Homo sapiens: one gene and its partner. The protein of the gene in region 1 purifies or fractionates together with the protein of each later gene. This does not show direct contact. Each region holds a gene or a part of one and is shown on either strand. Other genes may lie near its edges.

Region 1 (3,500 bases):
TCTCAGAACGCAAGGTGGATGGGTGGAAAGGGACTTGTTGTCTGGCCTGAGGCCCTCCCGGTCCATGGCTCGTGGATTCACACTCTGAGACCTTTCTGCTTGCTTGGCAGGGCAGGGCTTAGCAGGAAAACAACCCCGTAGCCACAGGAGTTTTTGTAAATTGCACACTTAGTCATAAATGCCATTGCTCTTAGGCTAAAAACCAAACTGCTTAACACGGTCCAGGGCCCTGCAGGGCCTATCCTGTCCTCACCTTTCCCGGCTCAGGTCCAGACACCTCAGCTTTCTTTTTTTTCTCTCTTTTTTTTTTTTCAAGACGTAGTCTCACTCTGTCACCCAGACTGGAGTGCAGTGGCACAATCTCAGCTTACTGCAACCTCCACCTCCTGGATTTAAGTGATTCTCCTGCCTCAGCCTCCCGGGTAGCTGGGACTACAGGCATGTACCACCACGCCTGGTTAATTTTTGTATTTTTAGTAGAGACGGGGTTTTGCCATGTTGGCCAGGCTGGTCACGAACTCCTGATCTACCCGTCTCAGCCCCCCAAACTGCTGGGATTACAGGCATGAGCCACTGTGCCCAGCCGACACCTCAGCTTTCTTATGCTTCCTCCAGCAGCCAAGGCTCCTCCTGCCCCAGGGCCTTTGCACATGCACTTTATTCTTCCTGGAATTCCTTTCCTACTTGCCATCCCTCACCCTACACACACACACACACACACACACACACACACACACAGCAAGGGGAGCAGCTCATTGCTGGAGTCCTGTGGTTTCTTGAACTGTCGTCTTCCAGGCCCTGAGGCCAAATGCACACCAGGGTTTGCTCAAGCAGTGAGAGCCCAAATTGTTGGAATGCGCCTGAAAAATAAGGGCCCCACAGTGAAAGAATATCTCCTTTGTTTAAACTCATCCAACTGGTCTGATGAGAGGGTGTGTCCTGGTAGACTGAGGGTGACAATAGGAGGTTTGGAGCCACATGGGTGTGTCTGAGAGATGGGTTTGCACCAGAATCCCAGCCTCCCTGGCCAAGACAAGGAAGAGAAACACAAGCAGAACTGTGTGGCTGGGAGAAAGCGTCGGGAGTCAGGAGAGTGGCAGGCAGAGGCCAAATGCAGGGGCCTCGTAGGCCAGGACAGTGGCGGGGGAGCCCCCGTGGCGCCACAGCAGAGAGCAGGACAGGCAGTGGAAGCTGGAGGTGTTGGGAGGCAGCACTGCAGAGGGGACAGCCCAGATTCAGATTCACAATGCAGACCAGACATCTTGTCCCTCAGTGAGGATGGGACAGTGCTGTGAGCAGACAGGCCTGTGCCCACCCTCATGGTGCTGAGAGCCAGAGAAGGTCAGCACTGACTCAGCCTTGAGGGACACAGCATAGCCCCAGGGCCTGCTTGGTGAGCGCAATCTAGGAGGGCCTCCAGGAGGAGGGGACACTTGAGTCAGGACCAGTAGGATGACGAAGAGCTGCTGGTGAATGGGAGAGGGAGCACTGCATGGTGCTTCCCCTGGGCTTTCACAGTACACCACGCAGCAGAGGAGTGGAGAAGAGGCGTGCAAGGCTGTGGAGGGGCAGGGCCCTGGGGCCACCTGACAGCCACGTCATTGCCCCGCTAAGCCGCTGTCCCCTCTGTGCCCCATAGGCTGTGGAAGAGGTCCCGGGGTATGGAGGGAAGGCTCTCCTGGAGGGGCAATGGCCACCGTCATTATGACAGTGATGTCACTGTAGGTCCTGCAGGGACCTCCTGCTGGGAGGGCTGGAGCTTCCGGGCCTGGGCCCGGCTTAAGCAAGACTCACCCCTGTATGCAGGGCCTCCTTGTGCAGGCCAAGGCAGTGTGAGCCGGTGGAATGCACCACGGAGCCCAGGCCTTGGGAGAAAAGTGGCCCCTTGCTGGCCCTGGGGGCCCAGGCTGAGCAGGGCTAGGACCTGAGGCCCACCCGGTCAGCCAGCCCTGTGCTGGTACAGAGGGGTGGCTGTGACTGGTGGGCTGTGTGGAGGAAGGAGGTGTCAGAGTCCCTCCCAGGGGTACCTCTGAGCTTGGTGGGGTCAGGGAAGCTGGGAGTACCCTGAGGGGACTTAGGGCTGGAGGTTGGTAGGGGGGTAGGCCAGGGCAACCTGTCCCTGATGGAGTGGAGGTGGCATAGGTCCCTGAGGCTTCACCGCAAACCTGAGATGGCCCTGGAGGTCCAGGTGGGAGGCAGGAAGTAAGGGTGGAGGAAAGGTCAAGCCACCTAACCTGGCTCCCAGGTCTGGCTCTGCCACTTCCTGGCTATGTGACCTTGGGCAAGTCACACAACCTCTCTGAGCCTGAGCCTCCTGAGGCAGTCCCCCTGCCATGCTGCAAAAATGCCTCCCTGCAGGATGTTCCCTGGGGAAACCAGTGCACCTCAGCAGTGAGGCTGCCCCACCCTCTGCAAAGACCCCCACCCCAGGCTTCCTTCCTTCCAGCTGTGCTTGTCCTGCGCGGGCCCTGGGGGTGAGGTGCACTCCTGCAGGGCCTTCAGGAACCTGGGGTCAGAGGAGCTGGCTTGAGGCCAGAAAGCTGGCCCAGTCTCTGGGGTCAGCTGGGCCTCACCCACCCTGCCTGCCCTGGCAGACCCATGGAGAAAGCCTGCCTGCCTCTGGCCCTGAGTGAGATTGAATGCCAGTTTTGCAGCTGGCCACAGAGTAAGGACCTTTGAGCCCCTCTCACCTAGGAGGCAGTGGAGACTCAGCCAGGTGAGGTGTGACACTCAGAATTCCACAGCTGGAGCCCAGAGTTATGAACAGACCCCCTGCTGCGGAGAGCCCCTCATGTGACCCTCACCCAGCCTTCCGGATACCCAGGCAACCAAGTTCTCTCACGCTGCAGACAGAAAACAGGACTGGAGCCTGCGGGGAGGTGGTCCCTGTCAGCCCCCTAGACCCCTGGCCCCAAGTCCTGGGCCCTGTAGGCCACATACGAGTGGCCTGGCCCAGCCCACATGCTCGGGACACCCCCGGCCCCTCCCTGTTGCTGTGGTCTGCCCAACCAGGCTGCTCCCCAGGGCCTCTGGTGATGGAGCGTCCCAGTCCCAGTGCCACACTCCCAGAGAAGGTAACCATTCCCAGCAACTTCAGAAGCCACCCAGATGCTCCCTCCACCGCCCCCCCACAGTCATCCCCAAGGGCACCTCTGCTTCCCACACCCACCTCCCAACACCCTGCCAGCCTTCCTGCTTGCCCGCCAGCTCCAAGTCTTCCTCGAATCGCCCTCCCCAGAGGCTCCCACAGCCTGGAGCACATGGTGTCATCCTCAAGCCTGCCCTTCTCTCCTTCCCCAGCATGCGGGGCACGCCTGCCCACCATCCGCTCCCTCTCCACTCCTCCCTCCTCCAGCAAAGACCTGATGCCAGCTAAACCCAAGAGACCACTCACTCACCAGTCCTCCTCCCTTTAAGTACACGATTGCAGATGGCAGGGGGCACACCACCCCCTTGACACCTTCCCTCTGCCCACCAGCACCTTTGCGCCCCTCCCTTAG
Region 2 (4,014 bases), on another chromosome or scaffold:
TTAGAGAATCAGTTTTTGAGGACTACTGACCTTTTGAGAAATGAGTATTGCAAATAATGAAAAATGTTTAGTGACTTTATTATTCTTAATTTAAAAACATTAAGAAAAATGGCATGCATTTTCTTAGGGTTTAGTGGGTTAATTTTTTTTTAATTAAATGCTTTAGAACATCTTAACAGTTATTTGCTCCTTTAAACTCAACCAGTTACTAGAAGAGTCCACATCTTGTTGAATTATTAGTAACTCTAATAGCTTTCAAAGTATTGTTCAGGACAGAAGGCAGATTTGTTTCAGACATGATGATTTTATGGTATGAAAATCATTGGTTTCAGCCAGGCGTGGTGGCTCACGCCTGTAATCCCAGCACTTTGGGAGGCCGAGGTGGGTGGATCACTTGAAGTCAGGAGTTCGAGACCATCCTGGCCAACATGGTGAAACCCCATCTTTACTAAAAATACAAAAAAATTAGCTGGGTGTGGTGGCAGGCACCTGTAATCCCAGCTACTCGGGAGGCTGAGCCACAAGAATCACTTGAACCCAGGAGGCAGAGGTTACAGTGAGCTGAGATTCTGCCACTGCACTCCAGCCTGGGTGACAGAGTGAGACTGTCTCAAAAAAAAAAAAAAAAAAAAAAGAAGGAAATCAATGGTTTCAAACCTGATAGACATCAGAATCTCACAAGTAGCTTTTTAGAAACTTTTTTTTTTTTTTTTTTTGAGCTGGAGGCTCCCTCTGGAGTCACTGTGTTGGCCAGGCTTTTTCAGGCTGGGTGCTGTGGCTCATGCCTGTAATCCCAGCACTTTGGGAGGCCGAGGCAGGTATATCACAAGAGGTCAGGAGTTCAAGACTAGCCTAGCCAACATGGTGAAACCCCATCTCTACTAAAAATACAAAAGTTAGCCAGACGTGGTGACCCACACCTGTAATCCCAGCTACTCGGGTGGCAGACGCACAAGAATCACTTGAACCCAGGAGACTGAGGTTGCAGTGAGCCGAGATCACACCACTACACTCCAGCCTGGGAGACAGAGCAAGACCCTATCTAAAAAAAAAAAAAAAGACTTCCTAGGGTCTTGGGGGTTCTGATTTGTAATTTTTTGGGATAGGACCCAGAGCATATATATTTTAAAATTGCGCAAGTAAATATAATACCAGCCAGAGATGAGAATGGCTGGCAAACATTATGTACATACTCCTTTATGTGTATGGGCATGGTGGGGGCTCCTATAGATCACACATTGTCTTCCTTCCAGTGCTGTCTAGAAGCCTGTGTAATTTGAGATAATCCAGCCCAAGTGTGTGTGTGTGTGTGTGTGTGTGTGTGTGTGTGTGTGTGTGTGGAACAGAGAAGAGCAAGTATTTTCCCCTGGACCTTGGTAGTAAAGCTAAGAACTAAAAGACAGTAGTGGTATGGGTGGCTGGCTTGCTTGCTTTTCTCTTCTTTCTCAAACATAAATACACTTTTTAAAAATGCAAATACCATAGAAAACTTTGTATCATAATAAGCACTTGTAATAGTGGCATTAGGAGGGAGTTGAGATAGGAAAAGAGGTGTGGGGATTTGGGGTGAGAGTGGAAGCAGTCGTCTTTGGCACCAATAGAAAAAGTGGATGCAAGGACCCTAGAGACAAACTAGTATTGCTGTCTCCAAGGTTTGGCCTCTCGGCCATAGACCACCCATGTTTGTCACAGGTACTGTAGTGTTCATCTGTTTTTAAAATGTGAGGGCTAATGAAGTTTTGTTATTCTTACAAATGAAAACTAAGCTCTGTTGTTTTTTTCCCCTCTACTTCTTTCAGATCCCGGTCTCCAGAATCTCCCCCATGCCGTTTCATCCATCGCAGGTCTCTCCCAGGGCTCGTTTTCCAGTCTCCATCACTAGTCCTAACAGAACAGGAGCCAGAACTCTTGCAGACATCAAAGCAAAAGCCCAACTGGTCAAAGCACAGAGGGCAGCAGCTGCCGCTGCCGCCGCAGCTGCTGCAGCCGCCTCAGTTGGAGGGACCATTCCAGGACCTGGCCCAGGGGGTGGACAAGGTCCAGGAGAGGGTGGTGAAGGGCAGACTGCTAGAGGAGGCAGTCCAGGCTCAGACAGAGTCAGTGAAACTGGAAAGGGCCCCACACTGGAACTGGCAGGAACTGGAAGCAGGGGAGGTACGAGAGAGCTTTTACCCTGTGGTCCAGAGACTCAGCCCCAGTCTGAGACCAAGACCACCCCAAGCCAGGCACAGCCTCATAGTGTCTCTGGAGCACAACTACAGCAAACCCCCCCAGTGCCTCCAACACCTGCCGTCAGTGGAGCATGCACAAGTGTCCCATCACCAGCCCACATAGAGAAATTGGATAATGAAAAACTGAACCCCACCAGAGCAACAGCCACAGTGGCCTCTGTCAGCCATCCACAAGGGCCCAGTAGTTGCAGACAGGAGAAAGCACCTTCTCCAACAGGTCCTGCTCTAATCTCAGGTGCCTCACCTGTTCATTGTGCAGCTGATGGCACAGTTGAGCTCAAAGCAGGTCCTAGTAAGAATATACCTAACCCTTCAGCCTCATCAAAGACAGATGCTAGTGTGCCAGTGGCTGTAACTCCCTCCCCTTTAACATCTTTATTGACCACAGCCACTTTAGAAAAGCTTCCTGTACCCCAGGTCAGTGCAACTACAGCACCTGCTGGATCAGCTCCACCCTCGAGCACTTTGCCAGCAGCTTCTAGCCTTAAAACCCCAGGAACTTCTTTAAACATGAATGGACCCACTTTAAGACCAACCTCTAGTATCCCTGCTAATAATCCTTTAGTGACTCAGCTGCTTCAAGGCAAAGATGTTCCCATGGAGCAAATTCTGCCTAAACCTCTCACCAAAGTTGAAATGAAAACGGTTCCACTGACTGCAAAAGAGGAAAGGGGGATGGGAGCGCTCATAGCTACCAACACAACAGAAAATAGCACCAGAGAGGAAGTTAATGAGAGACAGTCCCATCCAGCTACGCAGCAGCAGCTGGGCAAAACCTTGCAAAGTAAGCAGCTCCCCCAGGTTCCAAGGCCCCTTCAGCTCTTTTCAGCTAAGGAGCTGAGGGACTCCAGCATTGACACACACCAATACCACGAAGGACTAAGTAAAGCAACCCAAGATCAGATCCTTCAGACTCTCATTCAGAGGGTTCGGAGGCAGAATCTTCTCTCAGTTGTGCCGCCCTCACAGTTCAACTTCGCTCACTCAGGTTTCCAGCTGGAAGACATCTCCACAAGCCAGAGGTTCATGCTGGGTTTTGCTGGCAGAAGGACATCCAAACCTGCAATGGCAGGGCACTACTTACTGAATATTTCTACCTACGGCCGGGGCTCAGAGAGCTTTAGGAGGACCCATTCTGTAAACCCTGAAGATCGTTTTTGTCTAAGCAGCCCCACTGAAGCCTTGAAAATGGGATATACAGACTGTAAAAATGCAACAGGAGAGAGTAGCAGCAGCAAAGAAGATGACACTGATGAGGAAAGTACTGGTGATGAGCAGGAATCTGTCACAGTGAAAGAGGAGCCCCAGGTTTCCCAGAGTGCTGGCAAGGGTGACACAAGTTCAGGACCTCACAGCAGGGAAACTCTATCTACCAGTGATTGCTTAGCTAGCAAGAATGTGAAGGCTGAGATACCATTGAATGAGCAAACCACTTTAAGTAAGGAGAATTACCTGTTCACTAGAGGCCAAACATTTGATGAAAAGACCCTAGCCAGAGATTTAATTCAGGCAGCACAGAAGCAGATGGCTCATGCAGTGAGAGGTAAGGCAATCCGTAGCAGCCCCGAGCTTTTCAGTTCTACTGTTCTTCCTCTGCCTGCAGACAGCCCCACCCACCAGCCCCTACTCCTTCCACCCCTGCAAACCCCGAAGTTGTATGGAAGCCCCACCCAGATAGGGCCAAGCTATAGAGGCATGATCAATGTCTCCACCTCATCTGACATGGACCATAACTCTGCTGTACCAGGTAGCCAGGTATCTAGCAATGTAGGTGATGTCATGT

The links.
Region 2: the proteins of ABLIM2 (region 1) and ASXL2 purify together in Homo sapiens (affinity purification with mass spectrometry; one large-scale study listed by BioGRID and IntAct). This does not show direct contact.

The regions. Positions count from the first base shown.
Region 1 is NC_000004.12:7,970,314-7,973,813, reverse strand, and holds part of ABLIM2 (actin-binding LIM protein 2), read left to right. Parts: exon of another isoform or gene 1-860; intron 861-3,398; exon of another isoform or gene 3,399-3,500. UniProt on the Homo sapiens protein: May act as scaffold protein. May stimulate ABRA activity and ABRA-dependent SRF transcriptional activity.
Region 2 is NC_000002.12:25,742,262-25,746,275, reverse strand, and holds part of ASXL2 (putative Polycomb group protein ASXL2), read left to right. Parts: intron 1-1,799; coding exon 1,800-4,014.